Linked DNA regions of Homo sapiens: all the other regions are linked to region 3. Evidence: fine-mapped expression QTL. A gene starts in region 3. Each other region holds a variant in brackets. All regions are shown on one strand. Distances are from middle to middle. Region 1 overlaps PRKG1 (protein kinase cGMP-dependent 1). Region 2 overlaps PRKG1 (protein kinase cGMP-dependent 1). Region 3 holds the start of PRKG1 (protein kinase cGMP-dependent 1).

What was found. PIP is the estimated chance that this variant, and not a neighbour inherited with it, causes the effect.
Region 1: its variant is fine-mapped to the expression of PRKG1 in blood mononuclear cells (TOPMed, PIP 0.99).
Region 2: its variant is fine-mapped to the expression of PRKG1 in prefrontal cortex (ROSMAP, PIP 0.95).

Annotation. Positions count from the first base shown.
Region 1 is chr10:51,242,433-51,250,529 of GRCh38, reverse strand. All of the region lies in intron 2 of PRKG1 (protein kinase cGMP-dependent 1), which reads right to left. Among named protein-coding and RNA genes, the nearest start is that of MIR605, 53 kb to the left of the region's middle. The variant A/G (reference allele first, on the strand shown) is at 4,094.
Region 2 is chr10:51,147,864-51,155,960 of GRCh38, reverse strand. PRKG1 (protein kinase cGMP-dependent 1) reads right to left here. Exons shown (of 18, transcript NM_006258.4): 2 at 2,631-2,797. Among named protein-coding and RNA genes, the nearest start is that of PRKG1, 77 kb to the right of the region's middle. The variant C/A (reference allele first, on the strand shown) is at 2,967.
Region 3 is chr10:51,069,287-51,077,383 of GRCh38, reverse strand. It overlaps PRKG1 (protein kinase cGMP-dependent 1), which reads right to left and starts at 2,897. Exons shown (of 18, transcript NM_006258.4): 1 at 2,483-2,897. The coding sequence starts at 2,793.

The DNA of each region.
Region 1 (8,097 bases), 170 kb before region 3:
ACATTCAGAGAGAAAACAGCTGACAAAATCATCCATCAAAGTCTGAGACTGGGAATTCACCAGTCTCCATGAAAGGTCTTTGCTTTTGCATGACAGGTTATTCCATCATTCTGAAACATACTTCCCACTTTCCCATGGGTTAAACTTGTTCTATGATCAGCAGTCCAATTCAGGTTTCAAGCAATCATTCACTCTTAGTTCTTTCAAATGTCATAAATTGATACGTTGCTAAACATTAGTTTCTCATAGAATGTTTCCTAGTATTTCTCAAACTGTGATCATTTTTATGCCACCAAATATTCATTTTCTTGCCAAAAGCAAGATAAATTTAGATATCTGCCTTCTCCCAAGGTATACTGAATAAATTGGTCTTTTGCCAAAAGGCTGTTTAGGGTAGGTTGGGGAGTTAAACCACAGCAACCCTGCAATGAGAGGGACAAGCCTCACTTTTCCATTCAGTAACTGTAGGCTCATGATGTCAGTAAGACTTCCAGGGTCTCAGTTTTCTCCTCTAATAAACAAAGTACCCTAGATGATAAGAATTACATAAATGCATGTGGATATGTTCTAAGCTATGAAGCATCATCTAACATATTACTTACGCTTTTAAAGGCACTTAAGCACAATATGACATTTTAGAGTTCATAATTACAAATGTGTCACCTGGAATACAAAGATGACAAATATGCCCGGCTATTAGAATGCACACTTCACAATGATAGTAGTGTTTGTCATGTTCACTGGGCTGCAGAAACACTGGAACAGTGCCTCACACATAGTAGATGCTCAATCAGTACTGTTGAATGAAAAATTGTATAGTGTCCTTTGTTAAACATAACAATTTATAATATGCTGCTACTTGCGATTATTTTAATAAATGGTCATTTTTTTCATTTATGTTCTGTCTCCTTTCTAGGGAAAGTTGAATTGTTTTGCAAATAAAATTACAAAACCTGAGTCTAACACTATTAGCATTCAAAATATCACCTAAAATATGTCTGATTAGAATATATCAATTAAATTTAATTTACTTTAAATAGCCAAGAGAATAGGAACAACATATACAGCCATTTATAAACAGCAAATAAGAAATGACAGTTTCCAGATTTATATTTTCTACATATTTTAAAAATTCCTATGGCATTCACATGTTCTCACATGTTCTGTATGTCAAAAACTTTTCAAGTTAATATTCAGTGCATTTTCTAATGTTGATAATTCTATAATATATGCGTTGCTTAATGTCCAGTGATTTGGGTCCATGGGGATGACCCCATTACTAACATTTTCTTATAAGCTATTCTTTCAAACTATATATTACAACTTTTTAAACTAAAATTTTTTTGCCCCTAGTTTTTTGTAGAGAATGATTTTAAAACGTAAGTTAACCATGGCTGCTATTTTAATACAGCATTAACTGTCTTCCTCGCCTCTTAAAAAAATTTATCATGTTTTTAAAAATTTTATAAATGATAAATTTGCATTAAACCTTATATTGCTTTTAATCTCCATGAGCCAGATAAAATTTCACCTTCGGTTGTACTTAATTTTGTCTGTAATCTGACCGGGGTCTTGATTACTCAATCACCAATTTCTCAGGCCAATTAACATTTACAACATCTTTAGAATATGAGGGATGCTTTTTATAAGAAGAATAAATTTTATTTGATATAATGTAATTAAAGCATTTTACCTTAGTTGTAATGTTCATTAGTTGTTTTTTTTTGTAATTTCTATGTAGCCATCTACATGACATAGAATTTGTTATACTGTAGTTGCAATAGAGAATAAATTTTACAATTTTCCATGCACTTTTATATGAAACTTTAAATTGCACTATTTCAGTTAGCACTTCTTTAAATATATAAATGCAGTTCAATAAAGTTTGCCATAGAGACCATTTCTGTGATCAGAGTTTTCTCATCATAAAAATTAAGAGAATGAACTAAATGGATTCTGTTAATTTTAACCATAAGATACCATAATTGTACAAACCTGATTTAATGCTGACTTTTCGACAACTGCAAATGTACTTAGATGAGAAAATGTGAAGTTGAATATAATATCATGGTTACAAATGCACAGACCATTTTGAATTGCAGGTCTAAAAGAGCGATTTTTTTAATAAAACATTAATAATAATATGCAAACTATTCTCTTCCAACCCAAATATTACCAATATTTTGATATGCACTTGAAACAAGACCTAGAAGAAACATAGATATTACAATCCATCTTATCTCTGGAAGATCTGGATGTATGAATATTTGATCCTGACTTTGTCATACTACATTGAGCAGAGAATTAATATGTATTGAGTGTGCCCTATAGGTCAATAACTGTCCTGGGCAGCCTGAGAACATTTTCAAGAGCAACCCTTAAAGCTTAACAATGTATGTAGTTTAGTTTTTCAACAGCCACAGATAAATTCAGTCCTTCTAACTTTCTACCTAAGGGTTCATTTACTCCCTTTTACGATTGTTGTTTAACATTTCCCCTACCACTTTGCCGTTACCTTTATTGTTGTTGTTAACAGACACAGTAATTCAAGTTATAGCAATGTAAGCAGGCAGACACAAACTGAAGATTACATGAGAGAGTTGAGAAAGAGTCCAAGCTGAAGTGACCTTCATGCACAGGTAGAAAATGGAAATCAGTAAATGACTTGGCCAAAAGTAGGAAAAAATCAATTTAGTTTTTAAAAGAATGGGAGAGGAAGACAAGAGAAACAGAAGAGAGAGAAAAGAACGCCATCAGAGCAAATTTAGAGGCCAGAAATGAAAGAAAAGACACAGCAATATGGGATATAGGTGGGGCTCCATTTGCTCATTCATTGATGTATCATTCATTCTACAAATTTAGCAGGTGCCTTCTATGGGGATGCACTATGCTGGCCCCTGAGGATTTGGGAATAAACAAGTTAAACAACGTCCTGTCCTCAGGGTAATTAGCTGAAAAGGCAAACAATTTTTGTTTTATATATTTAATTGTTAAGGGTGTAAATTTTGCTGGATATTTACTTAAACTTAATATCTCATGGAAAGTAATGTTTACTCTGAATTTTTTCCTTGAATATTTCCTTCTCCTCATATGCATATGAAAAGGACCAAGAAATGTGTTTTGCTCATGTAATTCTTTAATCTCCTTTATTTTCTGATTTAAATAGATATCTAAGTTTCAGATGCACAATTAATTCCTTTCTTCTCTTGCATTTTTGAGTAACAAATGATGAGTATGGAGGGAAAATTGGCTCAATAAACATAATAATAAAAACTGTCAGTATACTTGAATCATTTTCCCAGTGCACCAAAAACTAATTGAGCTCTAACACACAAAGTTGACCTATAGGAAGAAGCAGGGGTTTTTTCATCTTCTTGACTACTATTCTTGTCTCTTTCACAGTCTTACCAGCCACGTGAGAACCATACATTTATTACTCCATTCATCTTCTTGTACAATTTACCTTCTCATACCTTTTCCCTTCTCTTTTCGAATTATGTCTTGGTCCCAAATCCAGAATCCACAAATGCATGGTCATGAAACAAATCCAGACCACAGAAATGTTGCTTTTGGGTCCCCAAGTTTTAAAAATGTTTCATTTTGTTAGCTGCCAGTGTTTAAGAACTGGAAGATATAACATACCTTTCCCAAGGTACATGTTCTTCTGAAAACTGGGAAGATTTGGTCACAGGGTATCAATAAGGGGCTGAATAGCAGTGAACAAGAGCTCTCCAATTCGCCACAGTCCCCAATTCTCCTATTCATGCCTGAGTCTGAGGCCAAGGTTCTGCCAGTTGACATTTATCATCATGTTTCTTTCTACTACTGTTTCATTGTTGGAAATATTTTCCTGTACCAACATCTGTCAGAAAAGTTGAAAAATGATAGATAAATCACCTCATTGTTTTTTTTTTTTCTTTTTTTTCTGTTGCTGTTTAATGCCAGGGGTTAGAAACATTCTGCAAAGGGCTGGAAAGTAAACATTTTGGGCTTACCTGGCCATACTGTCAGTGTCTATACTAAACTCTGCTATTGCAGTGCAGCATGGAAGTAGTCACAGACAATATGTGAAAAAAAATAGGCCTGTGTTCCA[A/G]TAAAACTTCATTTACAAAAACAGGAGGTGGGCTGGATTTGGGCCAGAGTTTGTGGAGTGCTATCTCTCTATCTATGCTGTCTGGATCCTGTGGGCATGTGGGTTTGCAACCTCTGCTCCCATTTCTTTTCAGCTTCAGTTTCTATCAAAACAACTTTTTATTAGTTCCTTTTCCACCTCACTTTGGACTCGTTTATAAATGTTGATATTTGTTTCAAAATGGCTGTTATAAGATAATGTCAAATTTGTCTATTAACTTTCTGGGTCAGAGAAAGTCAGTCCATCTTGCGGAGCAGCAAGTGCAAATCTCAAGGACAGTGGAATGGTAGGTGCATAGCTATGAATTTGCTGCTCCCTTCCTCAAAACCTTTGAGGCTTCTCTATAGCCTAATAATACAATGGAGTCTGATACCAATGTACTGTCTCAGCCATATTTGTCCTCCCTTGCCCCACCTATGAATTATTTGCTCAAGCCATTCTGGATTGTTTGCTATTATCTAAGTATAACTCCTAGCTTTTGCTCTTCATTTCTTTGATCAAGCTTCCTACTCTCTAGTACAGAAGGAGGTTGGTTTAAGGGGAATCCAGTTCCACCCATATTATGAAGCCTTACTAAAATGATATGCTTCCCATGAAGCCTTCTCAAATTCCAACAGTTACAGTTAAGGTCTTCAGTCTCAGTGTTCTCTTAGCACAATGAGAACACTTTTTACTAGGTTGTATCATATGAGGTTGTTACACTTTTAGGTCAAATATTGGCAACCTAATATATATATTCTGCTTAAGATTATATCAATAAATTATATACATGTCTGTTCCACTCCTCAAAGGCAGAGACTGCATCTCATTCATCTTGCTACATGCCTGGTGTCTAACACAACACCTTGCTCAAAGAAGAGAAGTATTGAATTGACACACTGAATTTACAACATCTTCAGTATTAACAGAGTAAGGAAGATAGTGTGCACATCTCTAAATTACTTTTAACTACTGCAAGGAAGGCCTTAATTCCTGACCTAGATTACTTAAATTTATAAAAATAGTGCCAGGGTTTGGGGGAAAGGGGGCAGAGTTGTAGTTGAAAGATGCATTGGCACTTTGCTGGCTGCTGACATTCTGCTAATTTCACTAGATAACAGGGACCCAGATGTTGTTATATGATTAAGTCAGTTTCAACTAGAAATATTGTGAAAATCTTGTGGCCAGAGGAAGCCTCTCATATTCAGAGTAAAAAAAATCTAATTTAGTAAAATGTGTGATGTCTTATGGGCTGTCTTATATCCTTAAGTTCTTTTCAATAGGAGAGCAAAAGAGAAATCTGTTGGCAGTACAGTGCTTGCCACATTCCTGTTGCTAAGCAAAGGGAAGCTAGGGAGAAGAGGAAAAGCGAAGGTCTGTGAATCAGGGGCAGTAAAATTCTAATCAACTCTTGGTGTTATGCTTGGCTGACTTTCTAGAGAAGGAAAGGCAGCAGTCTGCATTGGTATATCCAAAGGCTCAGGAATGTAGTCCCAGTATTCACAAAGGAAAACGCTTCCACTGTGAAGTTTGCAGTTAAAAAGATACAATCTCGGTTGTAGAAAAAAAAAAAATGATAAGGTAACCTCAAGCAGCTGAGGAGCTCACAGACATTTTTTTCCAGTAAGTGACTATAAAACAGCTATAAAACGGAAAAATTATGACAAGGTATCAATCTCTTTTAAAAGGATAGTAGGATAATTTTTTATGTTAAGAAGGTTTTCATTACAAACATGCTAAAATGTAGTCTTTTTTTCCAGTAATTTGAAAATACATAAGTTTAAAAGTTAGGAAAGAAAACAAAAACCTTACTGTGTTTCATCCCTCTAGGGATCCCTTAAGGCATTTAGAGGTAAAGAGCAATTAAAACGGGGCCTTTGGATTCTTTGCAATAGAGACTCCACAGCAGGGGGAATTGGGAGGAGGAGGCAGAGTGTGTGTGTGTGAGAAAGAACCACTGAATGTTCTATAAATAAATATGATCTACTCTACATATCCCCCTAGACATGAGGGTGACCTCAGAAATGATATTGAGATTTCAGGCTACCTGCAACAAATCATTATCTTGGATTCACCTTGACAATATAAATGGTAAAAAAAAAAAAAAAAAGGAAGAAAGGGAATATTCCTACACTCAATTCAAATGCTTAGTTTCCTTAATTTCAATTTGCCACATAAATAAATGAAAATCTAATCAAATAACTAATAAGTTTTAAATAGTCCCATAGGTATTACATTTTATGTAAAGTATCTATGATATATTTTTAAAATATTTATGTTGTTCCTTCTTGGGAAATTTTATTGATTGTGTGTTTATATGTGCTCAAATAAGAAAAAGGTTATTTGAACATTGGGCCAAGAAAGATTCTATTGCTTGCAAAAGAAACAAAACATGACAACATCAACACAATAGAACAAAATTCAAAACTCGTTTGTTACATTTGTTAGGGATAATTACTGCACACTCTGAGCATCATTGGTCTAAGAATAATTTATTTACCAAAGCAGTAAGAAGAGTCTTTAGAAATTAACCAGGAAAATGGCAGAAGGCAATATAAGAAGTCAAGTAATACTCTCCTGCAAATGTAATTGTTCCGTTTCCAGCCCTGCTTCTCTAGGAGTATATCTACTGATATCTACCAATTAATTAGCATTTCCAGGTGCATTTAAGTCTTGGCATCAGGCCCATAGTCCTTGTTCACAGGTATATGAAAAGAGACCTTGCCAAATGCTCACCAGCACTATGGGGAATGAAACTGCCCATGCCATGATGGATTACATCAGGAAAGATCTATCTAATGAAGGTCTTCAGAAGCAACAAATCAACACAGAAAAATGGCTGATGTCCAGAAAAGGGAAAACAATTTCTTTAGGTCTCTGTACAGACGATGAGTCCAGGGAGGAGGAAGAACATGGGGAACTAGGTAGGCACCTGCACATACACCACAGCAGGGAAAAACATAAGGTCCGCCAGAGCAATGCCAGGAAATGGTGATCCTACACCCTGACCAGGGCAAGAGCCTTCTGCTGACTGCTCTGGCTTCACAGCTATTCCAGGGACTGAGCTTTTCCCATTAGGCCAGTGGTGGTGAACAGACCTGAGACTCTGCACTACTCTTTATCAGTTCCTTTAAAACATGTCCACATGTAAATAGTCCTTTTAATAAACTCTCCTCAAATTTCCCTGCTTAAGTCAGCTGTCTGTGTCCTGTGGGCTCTCTCACTGATACATCATCCAAGTCAGGAAAGAAAGGATGAACACAGTCACACTAAGGCTAAGGGGCTTACAATCCCCCACCAAAAAGCCTTCCTTCTAACTGATATCTACTAATTAAGGGGCATTTCCAAGTCCATCTCAATGTATTAGCACCATATCAATTCTTATTATTCACAAGCATGCCATTGAAGACCTAGTGAAACATTCACAGAAATCCAGTATGTCTACACCGGGTCTCCAGCCTCCCTCCAAATCTAATTCACTTTTTTCCAAGAGAGAAATTAAATCACTTTGGTATAATCTGTCTTAGTAAACTCAAGATGATTCTCAGTGATCACCTGCAACCTGTCTTAGTGTTCACTATATTTTCACTAATTGATTCCAGATTTTTGCTCATGATTGGCATCATCCCACCAAGCTAATTAATCTAAAAATTGGGGGATTGAGCTTCTTTTCAAAAATTATATCAACCTCTGGTCAATTACAATCTTCCTGCTCCTCTCCCATTCTTTGTAACTCTATAAAGTAACAAAGATCAACATAGCAATTGCATTTATCCCAGTGTTACATAACTAACTTGTCTAATGTTTGTTTTACCCCTAGACTGCGAGCCTTGAGGGCAGGGATTGTATCTTACTCACCTCGAAATGGACATCATTGCTGGTACCTAGGAAAATGTCAGGGTATTACAGATGCACAATAACTGTTTGCTGAATTGAATTTACTGCACCAATGTAGTGGTTTAAAATTTCCTCATATCTTTGGGCTT
Region 2 (8,097 bases), 79 kb before region 3:
TTACATGTCAACTTGGATAGGTCACAATACCAGAAAGCTGCTCAAAAATTATTCTACTGTAGACGTTTTGGTGAAGATATTTTAGTAACACCTAAACGAATAGACATTGAGTAAAGCTGATTACCCTCCAATAATGTGGGCGAGCCTCATCCAGTCAGTCAAATAGAAAAAAGTCCCATCTTTCCCCTAGAAAGAGGAAATTCTGTCAGCAGACGGCTTTCAGACTCGAATTGCAGCATCTCTGATCAATGGGCCTTACCCTGTAGATTTTGGACTTGCCAGCCTCCACAATCACATAAACAAATTCCTTAAAATAAATCTCCTTCTCACTGTATATAGACACACACATCCTATTTGTCCTGCTTTTCTGGAGAGTCCTGACTAATACATAGCCCCATAGTTAACAGTTTGAGCTCTGAATCCAAATAGCCTGGGTATAAACCCTGACTCTACTATAAACTAGTTGGGAGACCTGGGCAAATTACTTAACCACATTAAGCTTCAGTCTCCTCATCTACAAAATGGAATAATAAATATTAGCCTTTACCTCACAGTATTGTTTGAGGTTTAAATAAATTTTATATGTAAACAATATTTAGAAAAAGCATGTTCTATGTGTTGGGCATTTTCTAAACATTAACAAATATTAACTATTATTCCCAAGCTTCTTCCAATATAGCTAGAAGACTTTCAGTTAGGCTTAGTAAGAAGGGACAACATGAATAAATTTTAGAAATAATGTCCATGGTTGTTTGGAAATCTACTTTTGTAAGAAATATTTAAGATGAAGGAACATTGAATCCACAGGTGTTCAAAATTGTGGTTTCTTGAATGAAACAGCAATAATTAGCACTGGAAAACAGATGAAGTAAAAGTATACTTTCCTTTATACAATAGCTGTTTTATTAAAAGGTGCTGACCAATATAATATCTGAAAAATAATATCATATGAAGCTATTGATATAATCTCAGAAGTGCTTTAAACGTGGTTTCTAATTGTTAGTAGTTCTTAAGATATTGCCTCTATCTTTATATTCTATACTTGACCTCTATATATTTTTGCCACTTTTCCATCCTTTCTGCTCACTATCCACATATAGCCTTGTCCTATAATTTCATCTCTTTTCTTTGCAATTCTCTGCCAAGTGTACATTATGTGTATTTTTGTTTATTGTGTTTTGTCACCAGAAGAAAGTCTAAATGAATATTTATATTTTTTGGCCTGGGAAGAATTTTATATTGTTGACATAGAAGGTGAAAACTATAAGGGAAAAAAATGATAGAAATTACTACTTAAAAACTGAATGCCTAACATATATCCAAAAAGATGACAAAGAATAAATAAAAGGTGCATGCTGAATGAAGAAAGAATATTTCTTATATACTGTCAAGATTTTAATAGAAATAATACTTATTATTATGTTGTGGTGTTCTATACTTTACATTAAACATTATACAAATTATCTCATTTTATACCAATCGTGTAAAGAAGGCAGAATGCAGGATTTTTCATACGTTGGCTCTAATGACATTTTGGGCCAGATAAATCTTTGTTCTGGGCAGCTACCCTTTTGAGCAGTATGCCTGGCCTTTACCCACTAGAAGTCAGCAGTCCCCCCAACATCACCCCCTTTGTGACAACCAAAAATGTCTCCAGATATCACCAAATGTCCCCTGGGAGACAGAATCATCATCAGTTGAAAACCACTGGCAGAAAGAAAGAATATCTTCTTTTTTTACAAATTGGTTAGGTGAAACAGAGAAATTAAGTGACTTGCCCAAATACACCACTTCTCTGAATGACCTGTAAGTTTGATAATTATAGGACACTATCACACAAATGTTTTGGATAAAACATTAATCACCACCTAAGAAACTGGTTTTCATGTGTCACCATCTTACATTATAGGTATTTCTGCACTCACTTTCTTCCAAGCTGATTCAGTCATTATCTCAAGCTACTTTCTTCCCACAAAAGAAAAGCATGTCAGTATAGATTTCAGGTCAGAAAGAAGTATTATGAAAAATTAGCTAGGCATAAAACATATTACACAGTGCGTGCCTCAGTTTTTTTCAAAACACTTTCTATATTAGTCTTTACAGGATGTATGAAACAAGCTATCATTCCTATTAATTAGGCAGGTAATATTCCATTCAACCTTTATTGTCTGCCTCTGTCATACACATGAAAAACATTTTCTTTTTACAGAAGCTTCATAGCAGGAAAACTAGTCACATATTAAAAGTTAAGGGGAGAGTTGAAGATGCTTAAATTATCGGCCAAAAATACTTCCAGTGATCTTGAGCTTCTGCTGAAGCTTTGTATGTTTGCTCAGTGACCTGACTGCATGAAGAATATTCAGTGTAATAAACTATATTTCTTTTTTCACATTTTTAACTTTTCCATGTCTGAAAAAATACTGGATTCTCATATTAATACTCTAAATACAAACACTTCCCATAATTAGTTAACCACTTTATCTAAGTAGTGTTTCAACTCTTCTCAAACTAATTTCTCAATAAAAGAAGGAAAAATGGAATTTTCCATGTAATGCATTGCCATCTGTGTGCAGCTGATAAGATGAAAAAAGAATATTTGAATGTCAGAGGATTGGAGTTACAAACCGTACCTTCCATGACATACACCAGTGACCCCACGTCTCCTTCTTTGATGATGCAACTGTCCTTGCCATACTCCACCGGGTACATACAATCCACAATCTCCTGGATCTGCGACAGCTCCAAGTTCTTCATAAAGTCATTGTCAAGGATAGCTTCCTTTATAAGATCCTTGGACCTATGGCAAGAGAGGGAAGATTTACTGGCACATCTGACAAGCTCTTTCATAGTTTGTGAGGTTTAGCAGCGCCATAGAGTGCTCTGGCACACCACAAATGTATTTTCTTGTTAGGAATCCAATAATTTTCTGGAAGACTGGAGAACAAAGTATGTCCATGGCAGCAAAA[C/A]AAAAAAAAAAAAAAAAAGGCACTAAGAATTTTTTTTAAGTATTCTATCATTTAATGAATAAGTGACCTACCAACCAACCAACCAACAAAATCATACAAGTCCATTTTGCTTTAGACTTTTTCTTAATCACAAAGATTGCTAGAAAACCAATGGATACATACTTTAAAGTTTGTAATTTAGTTTAAGAATAAACATGAATAAAATTTCAACATTCCAGAACAAATACTATTACTACTGTTTATATTTATAAAAGAATATCAGGGATGTATTGTACTATACACAATTATAGAAAAAAATGTTTACTTATTTTTTATGTGCCTCTTCTGCTAGACTTAATGCTCCACATAAGCAGGGATCATTTTAAATTTGTTCTTTATTTTATGCCCAGTGTCTACTAAGATGCCAGTCATCTATAAATAGTATTTAAAAAAATACCAACCTAACAGCTTTATGTGTGAAGACTGGTGAATATAATGTTACCTTCAGTAAATGGTGGGAGATAATACTGCTCAAGTAATATTTTGGATTAAAAAAGAATTGGATTCCTACTTAGCTATTTGAAACAACTGGTAGAAATGCAACAGTTCTTTACACATGTCCCATGCTTTTTAGAGAATATTTCTTTCTTCAAGCAGCTTAGACTGAGGTAACCAGGCAGATACAACTCTATTGAACAAGATGTTTGAAGTGCAACATGTTTTAGGTATGGGATTCAATACAGGTAGTCAGTAGGAAACATATTCATAAATTTTGTAATTGGAATTCAGTGGTTAACGAGAAAGTTTTAGCAGAACTTAAAACATTGGGATATTTATTTGCTGGGATAAGAAGTTCCAAATGACTTTCTAAGAATGCAAAATCAAAGTGGAAGAAATATTAAGAAATATTTTATCAGGAGGAGGACAATCAGAGCACTATCAGAGAAGTCAGAAGCCACATAAGATGAAAGCAAAGAACTTAGCAATCCAGAGAGGAGGCAGCACATTTGGAATGTCATATTAAAAGTCTTAATTTTTAAAAAATTAAATACAAGCTGACCTTAGTCCTCATTTCCTTAGCAAGTGGCTTCCAGGGGAGTGACCTGCGGTAGTGAACACTGACTAAAGCGTTAGTCTTCCCTCCCCATTTCTGGGAGGCTTTTCATCCAGACCTCAGTCTAACCAGCCTAGCCTTCACCATTATGTTTTGTAATAATTCAGTTTTAAGTAGTGCAAAGATACACATAAAAATAAAAACAATTGAAATTTCATTACTATGAAGAATAATCCTAGAGTGGAACGTTATGCTGCCATTAAAATTTTGTTTATGAGGAGTGTTAATGGCATGGAGGAAATTCTTCTATTATTTTTAAGTGAAAATGCAGGATACAAAATTGATTTTAGAGTAAGAATGTATGTGCCTACTAAAATGTTAAAAAAAAAAAACAAAAACAAAAACATAGGTTTTGAAGAGACATATATTTGGGTTTCAATCCTAGCCCTGACACCTCAAAAATTTTGAGTGGGTTGTCTTACTTTTCTGAATTTCCATGTTATCATCTACAAAATGATATTTTAAAAATATCAGCTGAATAGGTTTATATGTGAAGACCGAGGAATAAAATGTTACTTTCAGTAAATGGTAGGGGATAAAGGTTGTAGCAGTATTAATTGCAGTATTATCTTCACCCCTCCTTATAATTACCTTCACCACTCCTGGTCTCAAGAATAGCAGTGGCACCTTCATATTGACTCCTGAGATCTACTATTCTGGGATTAATTTTCCAAGAATCTAGGCTTATTTGGCATTCAGAAAATTAATCTTGGTCAAATTGCATTACGTTTTCTCTTTCCTAAAAATTTCTTTTCTTTTTTTTTTTTTTTTGTCAGAGAGTGAGGCCATTTGATGGGTTCATAGTTTCTTGTACAATAAAAACTAATCAAGAACCACAACTTGTTCAGCTACATACAGATGACACATTATCCTTTAGGAAGTATTAATAGTACCCTATAAAGATTTAAGTCCTAGAAATTCAGCAAGATTAAAAATGAAGCCCTCTTCCAAGAACATAATTATAATTAGCGCCATCCAAACATGATTGAAGTCGCTTTCTCCCCTCTCATAAATAAGATTATTAATCTGTTTGATGAAGATATTGCAAAAGATTAAACAATGAGCCCTAACACAATTCCTTAGAATTATCCAAACTTTCCAACTGTTTATCACTGAATGTAGAGTGTGGGATGGGAAGGACGGGATTTCAGGATGTTTTTGTTTCTCAAATTTTATTTTGGATGGAGGACATTTAATTTCAGGTCTCTGAAGAAACAAACTGGAGGCTTCCATATAGGCTGTTGTGTCACTTCAAAAGAAACTAATCAATATAGGACCACATCTTACTATTTATACCTTCATACAGATATTGCCAAATAGCATTATTTCTGAATTGTCACAATTTGTCTCTGCTCTCGCAGCAAGATAGATACCTTGTGCCTCTGTGTAGTACAACCCCAAAGATGGTCTTGTCAGAGAATAATACTCAAAGCCCTGCCTTTTCATGTAATTTTCCTTTAAGTCCTTTCCTATTGAGGACTGAAAACCTTAGGTCAACTCTCATTAGTCTTTACTTTCTCCAACATTATAGACTATAATTAATCAGGGCCTCCATCTAATTCTTCTTTGAATCCCTTTCTTTCCCCAAAGAAATGGTCTAAGACACTCACTGTAACTAAGATATAATGCATATAAAATCAGTGAGTTGAGTTGTGTTATTAGTATGGGAGTTGGGGAAAGCCGATATCACAAGTACCAGAAGGTAGCCATCTGCTCAACCCAGAGTATATATTTTAACAATATTTTGAAATAATTCAGCAGCCTGACTTGGGAGGTATAAGAAGCAACCACAAAGATCATGATTTTTTTTAATCTTTACTATCTGCCTTTGTGTACAAATTATTTATTTTTAAAAATCTTTTTCTTTCATGCCCAAAATGTGTGGCTTTTTAAATCTAAACACCCATAAAAGCGACTTGACTCATTTGAGCTATCCCTATTCCTTTGTCATCATTGAATTGTCAGCCTCTGAAATATTAGCTATATATAATGATATGCTGGTATTCTGGCTGTCTGGCTTGGGTGGAGAAAAGCGGAGGAAGCCATGGTGTGTAGCGTTTGCCAATTTCCATGGTGTAAATACTCCCACCATGGCCAATTTCAAGCTTTCATGCAAAATCAACCTGTTTGCAAAGTTCCTGGAAATTAACAAGCAGATCTTACATGAGCCAGTGCAAGTTGGCTCCAGCACAATACTGGATATAGAGTATTTTTCTAACACCCTAAGAATTTAGTGTAACTTAATTTATAAATTCTGAAACCAACATGATAATCCTTTCTTTCCTTAAAAATTTCATGAGGTGGTATAATATCCCCAGATAATTTAATGCCAGGATTAGCAATAGTTCTTTCAAATGTTCAATTTTAGAAAAATAAATTGGAAAATCCATTTCCCCATTTACTTATTACAGAGAAAATTTCTGAATGTAAAGAAAAAATACTTGACAGAAATTATCTTTCTACACAATCTTAGGTAAAAATGGGCAATTTTAGAGTATAGGAAAACATATACCTACTTCTCAAATAAGGGAGCCAGCACTATTCACTGTTAATAAATAGGCCCCCATTAGTTTTTCTTAAGCTAATAAAAGGATATTCTACATTATGGTTACCATACAGTAGGCTAGCAATATGTAAATAACAGTAGGGTTATTTCAAGGTGTAGGGAAGGCTAGTTCAGATTAAGTGGTCAGGAAGGCCTCTCTGAAATAAAGATTATATGACAATGAGATCCAACCATTGTCTTCTCTATTGCAGTGATGACGAGGAAAAGCATTCTAAGTAGAAGTAAAAACAAGGACAAAGGTGTAGAGTTTGGAATGACCTTGATATATTCAAGGATCAGAAAGGAGACCTGTATGGTTGAAGCATACAGTGAGAAAGAAGGAATGGGATGGGAGAATAAGATCACTGAGGTAGGCAGGGGATGGGTTTCATAGGACCTTGAAGACTACAATAAAGAGTTTTATTCCAAACACCAGTGAAGGACTATAAAAAGGGGTATGATTTATAGACAATATAACAGACATAAAGAATAAATGATATAAATTTACTTTAAAATGTTACTAAATTTGTGGAGGTTTTCTGTTGTGGATTTCATCAATTAATGAATACTGAAAGCAAAATTGATTATCATGTTAATAAGGGAGTTTTATAATTGAAACTCTTGGGAACCACTGTCTCATAAAGCTTACATTTATTTGGAATTTAAATCACTTACTCTCAGGCAACTCTTACATATTAGGAGAGAATTAGGTCTCATCTCAATTTCAAGAACTATCTCCAGAGGCCTGAAGTGTGCCCACTCTCTACTTTCACTCATGTTTTAGATCAGTTTCGCCCTCAGTCAGGTCACAGGCAATAGTAAACATGCCAAGAACAGCCTTGCCCAGAAATGTGAGCATTAACATCTGATCTCTTTGATTAAAAAAGACTTCCAGGCACTTTAAAAGACATAGTCAAAGCTATTAAGTTATTGCTAAGAATGGAAATCAGCGAAAGCAATCTGAAAATGTAGCACAAATCTTCTATAATAAAAATTTTTAACCAAAAACATCACTCACTAATTTTCTTTTGCACTGAATGGTCAACTTTGGGATCAAATGTCAGGGGAAGCAATAAATGATTTTCACAGTCACCTTGGCCTACAGTATTGTCTATCCATTTGGGAACTCAGACATCCAAGTCTTCATTGAGGACATGACAGTCCACAGCTCTTTCACACAGACATACTCCTTGCAGAGCCTCTTAAAAGTTTCTAATTCCGAGTTATTTTCAAAGGACAACTCCATCCATCTATTGTGAAATATTTGATTAATACCTATAAGAAAGAAAATTGGTAGTCCTGTTGCTGCCACAATTGTTAAGATTCTGCCCAAACCATGGATCCTATTTCTTGCCTAACAACTTTTCTGAATGAACTCCACAGATATAAGCTGGCTAAGAGCTAAGAACTACCAACCAGCCCACATAAAGATAAAATTTAATCCTGCAAAGTTATTGGCCAATTTAGATATTCCCTCAAAACCACAAACCAGT
Region 3 (8,097 bases):
TGGAAATTAATGTGTCTATTTAGATAGTTTCATTTTAACTGGAAACTCACAATAATCTATATGTATGTTTAAGAAAGATGGCTACATTTAAGATGTAGTAAAGATGAAATACAAAGACACAAACACTTGTTGCCAGTAAGTCCGTGTAATCAAATTATTCATAGTGAAATACATTGAAAGGCAAACAAGTCTTCTTTGGTTTGGCAGGTTTTCTTAACTCTTTGTGGAGCTACCTTGTACAACCATTCAAACAACATAAGATTTATTCATTTTGCATACAATGTACTTCTTTTTTCCCTAAGAAAGGTACACTTTCTACTACTCAAGCCAATTTTTTTCTAGTTTTCTTTATGTAAGTGTGAAAAAAGAACAGATGTTTTTCCAAAATTATTTAAGCTTGGAAGGCATTCTATCATTTTCCTCAATAAAATACTTCAGAGTCACCCAAAGCATCATGGCAATACCTTAAGAGCTGAGTCCTTTAAAATACAAGTTATTAGTAAGAAATCAGTATCAGGACACACAGTGTTGTTTGATAGATAAAATGTTATTATAATGATAGATAAAATGTTATTATAATGGGATGCTGTAAATTATTTGCCACACCAGCTTTATTTTCCACTCTGGACCTTTTTCGTTTGTTTGTTTTTCAATCTAGATATTCTACAAGTCATGTACAAAGAGGCTTTTAAACTTATCACATTGTATAGCTCATTCCCTACTGCCTAGAATCTTGTAAATCTCTGATGGAATGTGTAACTGGAGTTATCAGCTGGCTTCAACATGCTTCACTATGAAACCTATTAAAGTGGTCTTTTTGTAAAAGCAGAGTTTGCTCTGTGTCACTCAAAAGTCCTGCGGATACAAAAATGAGATCCTATGAAATGTTTAAAGATGCAGAGAGCTGTCTTTGAGTTATTTTTTCATTATGCAAAACTTGGCCCAGGAGAGATGGTCATGTACCTCGTTAGCTAAAACAGTCAGGCATGTCAGGATTGCAAATTAATTTACCAGAGAAAGTTGAAGTTTATTCAGATCACTCAGGTTTCTAAGGCAGATCTAAGTCTGCTGAACTATTAGGGCAATTTGGTAAGGTCAGAATCTCAGAAATGTTTATCCTTATTGTCTCTTTCCAACTCCCTCGCAGAATACAAACTCCTCCCTAAACTAAGCCTGCATGAACAGCAAATGTTCCATGGGAATCAACATGTATAGGTATAACTCTAAGTTTTCAAAAGTAGTAATTGGTACATGCTGTGATTCTCCCCAAAAAACATCCAATAAATACAAATAGAGATAATCAAATATTTACTTTCTCCTTATATTAACTTGTTGTATTTATGAAGTGAAGGGTTTCGATGGACCTTGCATTATTACGTAACACGTGCCATCCAGCCAATGTGATTTCGTTAGTAGTAGAGTAAGCAGCAATATCCTTGGTTTTATCAATTACGTTATTATCTATTAATTTAAAATGCCGTTCTTTTGGGTGCTCTCCCACATTCTGTTAACCTCATGTTCCTGTCGCTTTACTCTCCATATGAACTCTGAGTTGAGTGTTGTATAACAAGTTTCATTAAATTTTTCCCATCCAAGTTATGAAGCCCACTAACATCAGAATTGCACAGTTCCCTAAAAGGCTAGAACAATGCCAGAGTGGTTGCATTAGAAGCCAAGAGTAAGGCAAACAATGGGTCCACGTTTTAAATAAGATAAGTGTGCTTATCTGTATCTGACCCTGGAAACAAGCAACCACCTCTTGGGAGATGGAGATGCTCCATTAGTAACATTATGCACGTTTCTTAAGTAAAATAAGCAATCTTCTCCCTCATATGTTATGAAAAAATATTTCTTCAAAATCAACAGACTAGTCTTCCATTTATGGATTGTAAATGTCATCCAATTCAGGAAATCAAAAATTCTTCCTTTTTCTATGCCTATTTGCTTATGTTTCACACTTTGATGATGACAAGAACGTCAGGTTTGAAGGGTACCAGCGTGAAGCGCCAGCAGGTAGAGAAATCCGGGAGAGCCACAAAAGCATAGAAAGTATGGGTGATCAGACGCATTTCATTTCAAGTCTGATGAGCCTGCATTTAGGATTTTCCAGCTGGGCTGGTTTGCCAGGGCTTTTGGGAGACGGGGGCTTTTTATTTCTTCTCTCACACTCACACACACGGTCGGACACACACCTGGGACGTGTTCAAACTCTACGTACACTAGGTGGCTTATACGAATGTATATGTATATTTAAAAATAATACCTTGACATCTGACAAAGACACGAAGGCAACGTATGTGCAGTGAGTCTGGCTCTGAGAAACGTGCACAGCCCCGCAAGAAGTGCCCGTTAAAATGAAACATTTCTGAGGATGAGGACAGACATGGCAAGCGGGAGGGGCGGGGGCCGACAGACAATACAGAGACCCGCAGCTCCCCATCGCCAGGGCGCCACATGGACCCGGCGCGTCACCCCTGCTTACTGTGGGCTCTTGGGGTAGAAGGGCAGGGTCACATGGCTGAGATCCTGGATGTCGAAGGCGGTGGGCTCGGCGGAGATCGCCTGCCGCTTGGTGCGCGGCTCGCCCTGCAAGGTGCTCGCGCTCTGCTTCTGCGCCTGCTGGGTGGCTGGTCGGATCACCGAGCGGTACTTGTCCAGCTCGTTCTGCAGCTTCTGGATCAGTTCGTCCTTCTGATCCAACTCCAGCTCCAGCTCGTCGATGAGAGCATCCCGCTGCCTCAGCTCCTCGATCTTCTCCTGGAGCGCGTACTGTAAATCCCGCAAGGTGCCCATGCTCCTCCGGGCTGCCGGGGGCTCCTTCCTGCCGCTGCTCCGCGTCTTGAGGCTTCCTCCCCTCTCCGATCAACTTTCCCCAAAGTCGCCGCTGCCTCCCGAGTGCCAAAGCTTCCTACTTGAGACCAAAGCCAGCCCTGGCTTCTGAGCATGCCCAGTCCGCCGGCTCCAGCCACCCAGAGTTTCAGTGCAGATTCCACTTCTCTGGGCTGGCTGTGAGGCTCAGAGCGGGGAGAGCAAACCAGCAGGTCCAACCCGGGATTAAACCTGAGACGCGGTGGGCGCCGCGGCGCGGGGGAGAAGAGTCGGAGGCGCGGTGGCGGGGGAGCGGGAGGAGGGGACGTGAATGGGGGCTCCGAGGCAGCGGCTGGGCTCTCAGAGTCCCTCGCGCCGGGCGCCCAAGGAAGCTTGCGGGGCGTGCGGGGAGCCTGATAAGCCTCCGAGGCGCGCCGGGGGTGTGCGGGTGGAGCGAGGCGGGAGCGCTACTTCGGGGGTGGGGAGGTGGGAGGGAGGGGACAGGGAGGACCCCGGGCAAACTCGGGAGGCCTCAGCTGACTCCAGAGCAGACCAGCCTGGAGAATGTTGAGCTACGATCCTAGCGACGTACGAGGCATAGGGGACTCTGCATCATCAAAGCTCTGAGTTCTGGAGGTATTTTGACGGCCGGCCTCACTAAGGAAAGCTCCCGAGCGGTGTGGCCGAGCTGTCGCTTCTCCCACGCCACCTTTCCCACCCAGAGCGCCTCACACAGGTGGCTAACGCTTGCGAAGAAACTTGCCTCTCAGGAGATGCGAGCGAGTCGGCGCCCGCGAGGAATTCCCCCTTTCAGCCTACTACCTTTGGGAAAGGGTTGTGGGGTAGGGGGTGGGGTTTCCGATTTTAGCACCCGAGGCGTTGCTACTCTTCGCCTGCTCCAGATAGTTACTTTCCTTTCTGCCCCTTCCAAACTCTCATCGGGGAACTGTTTTAGGGCAAAGGCCAAAAACGGATTTGGGCCCTAGCAGGTCACTCAGCTTCCCCATGAGCCCTCCGCCTTGAGCTGGTGCCTGGGAATAGTTCTCGGATGGGCCTTGCTTCTTCCATTTGCTGAATTTGGCGGGGAGAGGGTGGGGGTTAAAAATCATTCCCGAGCTCCAAAAATTTCATCTTGAAACTGAATCATACCTTTAAAAATATTACTTTCCTCACAACCAAGCTGTTAGGAATGTATCTTTCCACTTGAATGGCCAGGAAGACATCCTGACACAAACTTTGAAGAAGAGGGAAAATCGTGAAGGAGCGAGGGAGACCACGCAGGCTGCAGTGAATTGTACACTATACTGCAGTCACCCCCACCTCTACCCACTCCCACCCTCATCCCTGCCCACTCAATATTCCCCAAAATGATCACAATTAGGTAACTTCCTTTCTATCCAAGTGTTACACTCCCATCATGGGAACACATGTTTAGAATCCCCAAATATCTGCCTAATACGTACCTAAATCCCTAATATTTGCTTAAGACATTACGAACTCATCCAATTTTATAGCATCTTTATTGGCAGATTTTTGATTACTATTCTTGGGCACTCAATATTATAATCCTCAATGCTCTATTTGGTTATTCCTTAACACTAAAACAAAGTGGACAGAAAATAAAATTGAATTGCAATGCAATTCTAAACTTAGCAAAGAATAGTATCAAAATAACTTGCACACTGTTGCTTTTGAATACACAACTTTTTGTATTTAAGCTAGAGACAGAGGAAGGGAGGAAAGGAGGGAGGGAGGTCAAGGTATCTTAACAAGCTTGTTCATTTAAAGTGTCCTTGTTTTTAATTAGAGGACTAAATGACAAAATATATAGTCCTAAATATTCTTTTATGTAGATTATGATCTAGTAATTCTCTTAATGCAGATTACACAAGACACTTCATTTTTCTGCTTTCCAACACAGACTTTCAGAAGTGCATTTATTTCTAAATGTGATATATAAAATGGATCATTCTCAAAACATTTTCTTTTGCAATGAAGAAATGAGCAACTTACAAATATTGAAAATAATAATAGCTCTGAATTACTGTTGTTTTAATTAAAAGTAAACCAAGCAGAAGTACTGTGACTTTGTATAACTCACTGTATTCTAAAAAAGCTTCCATGAAAATTTCCTTCTTCTGGGCAAAAGGCCAAATTCTTATTTAACCTGTGGGAATTCTTTATTTCCATGGGAAAATGTTGAATACAAAATGACTTTTTCCTATAGATCTATTATTGGGGTTCATGAAGCCATGAGTTTATGTCTAAAAATATACCAGATACAATGTATAGAGGACATAATTAGACAACTGCTAAGCTGGGTTCAGAATTCCAGGATTTTCTCTTTGTTTTTTTTTTGTTTGTTTGTGTGTTTGTTTTTGAGACGGAGTTTTGCTCTGGTCACCCAGGCTGAAGTGCAGTGGCGCAATCTCAGCTCCCTGCAACCTCCGCCTCCTGGATTCAAGTGATTCTCCTGCCTCAGCCTCCGGAGTAGCTGGGACTACAGGCACCCGCCACCACGCCGGCTAGTTTTTGTATTTTTAGTAGAGACGGGGTTCACCATGTTGGCCAGGATGTTCTCGATCTCTTGATCTCGTGATCTGCCCGCCTTGGCCTCCAAAAATGCTGGGATTATAGGCATTAGCCACTGTGCCCAGCCATCTCGTTCATTTTTAAAGTGAAAACAAATATTTTAAATACGTTTTTCATTGATGTTTTAGAGTTTATTTAGGGTTTAAATGGGGTTACTTAATGTTTTTGAGCAGCACAAAGAGAGAAGGTTCTTCCTCATTTGTAGAAAGTCTGTCTACATGTACAAAGGAAAATAAAAACTAAAACACTTTCCCCAAAAATAAAAAAACCAAAAATATTTAGGCATTTTGGAAAAAAGTGAGTTTTTTTACACTAAATTATGTAAATACTTATCAGTATTTAAGCTGGCATATCTAAATGCAACTATAGGATGTATACACATTACATTTTCATTTTAAATTTACATCTCATGATATAAAATCTGTTCCAGGATGAATCTGATATTGAGAGTCAGGAATCTGTTATAACAAACACAAATAGAGTAAAAAGCTGAAAAGACATGACTTTTACAATTGACTTTAAAAGGTGTTCAAGGAATAGAATATATTTAGTTATCTCAGGCTGTGTTATTTTTTTAAATTGACTTCCCCTTAAATGCTTTATAATTTCATATGCAAAATCCAGGATTCTAGCCTTTTCTCTTTCATTTTTAAAGTAAAAATAAATATTTTAAGTATGTTTTTCAATGATGCTTTTGACCAGCTGTTTAGATCTTGAGCGACCAGGTTTCCATCTCAACCTTTTGAGTGTTTCCAATATTTTCTTAAACATCTTCTGCGTTGTACTTAGTAAATGCTGGAAATAAACCCTATGTGAAAAATCAAAGTCCTGCAATTACGTCTTAACAGACAAATTATCTTTACTAAGTGTCATGTAGTAAACTTAATTGGCTAAATTACAAGATCAAAGATCAGGCACAAGTCTACTTTCTGCTAATTAGGAAGTGTCTACCTCAGATTCCTTCAGGGATAGAGTAGAGGAGAATGGCTTGATCTGAGCCCTGCCCCACTGCCTATCTGAGATGAAGCTTTGACATTAGATGCTAACAGTTAGAACAATGCAATTTTGAAGGAACTGACTTCATACTCTAGAATTCCAGAAACAACTCACAACCTGTTTTTCAGCAGTCTTCCTTTTTCATAACTTTAATAGAAGCAAAGTTCTACTGGTAGCCAGACCAAACTGTGGCCTGTTGAACTCCAACATGCTCTTTAGTCTTGCACCCAATCCTCATAATTGAGAATAAAAACTGACATGCCTTCCTTAATGGATTCTCAGAATCATTTAATGAGCTATTCCAATAAAGTAGCTTTATTATAATACTGGCTATTCAAAAATAAATCTGTAGAATTTGTCATCCTTCACTAAAAACATAATTAGCCCAAAAGAACTGTGCTAATTTTATCCACTTATCCATTCCACTGACACTGTATTTCCTGGAAGAATCTTAAGTTTTGAAATTTTCTTCTGTCATTTCATGTGTATATCTTGAATGGGAAAAAATAAACAAACAAATATATAGCTGAGCCTTTCAGGAGACAGAAGCTTCCTCTGGCAGAAGATTGCTAAAAGTAACAAGTCCTCCTAGGAATCTAGATTTTAAAGCTATTACTGGCAGACATGACGGTCTGTTCTAAGTTGCTAATCATAATCAAGATCACAAAAAATTAACTAACTTCCTTGACTTCTTAATGCATGATAGGTATTGTTCATACAACCCTATAAGTTCAATATTATTAATATTCTATTAATATTAGAGAAAATGGAGTCACAGAATCATTCACCTAATCAATGGCAAAGACTGGCTTCATATCCAGACTAGGTGATGTAGAGCTGAGGCCCCTACCCCTCATTACTTTCTGCAGAACTTATAAGTGTTGCTACTGTCCTATTCTGTATCCAGAGAGAGAAGAGTGTCTTTAACATCAACTTGCTTGACTTAGGGGTCAGGGAGGTGAAGAGGACAAATTTGGAAAATCCTGAAAGAGCAGCAACAAGGTTTTCAAAAAGTTCCTTTTCACAAAACAGTCCTGTCTTTATTTCAACAAGATTACATTCTGGCTCAGGGTAAGTAACTTGAACCCATTTGCCAGAGATTGTACTAATCCTAAAATTGCTTGAAATTGTCCTGTCTTTAAAACTAAAAGTTCTAAGAATCTTCCAGTCTCGGGCAAACCAGGAGAGTTGGTCACCCTATTCAATTCAAAATATCTGAGCTTCTCTAGTTTATAAATATTTTCAAATTTTGCTTTCCACATTACTGATAGAAAAGTAAAACCAAGGAAGATCTGTAATGATAATACCTATTATTTTAGGCACATTACAAACCCACTTATACATTACTTTGTGTTAATATGTTTTAGGAAAGCAATCATCCTATTGCAATGAATAATAATGCACAACCGGAACTGTCTTTGGACTATAAAGGGGGATGAGTCAGACAATAGAATTTTAATTATACTTTGATAAATTAGACAATAATTCAAGGATCCCTTTTTGCTTTATTGTTTTTACAGAAACTGGAACTTACATTGATTCCCTGTGAATTAAGTACAGGGATTCAAGTGCCTGCTATTTTATTAATTCCTATAGAACTAGTTTTATAATTGTGTTTAGTGGATAGATTTGGCCATAAGGAATATATATTTACATGGATATAAGTAAAAATTGAAATAGTTTGGCTGTTTTCAAGTTATA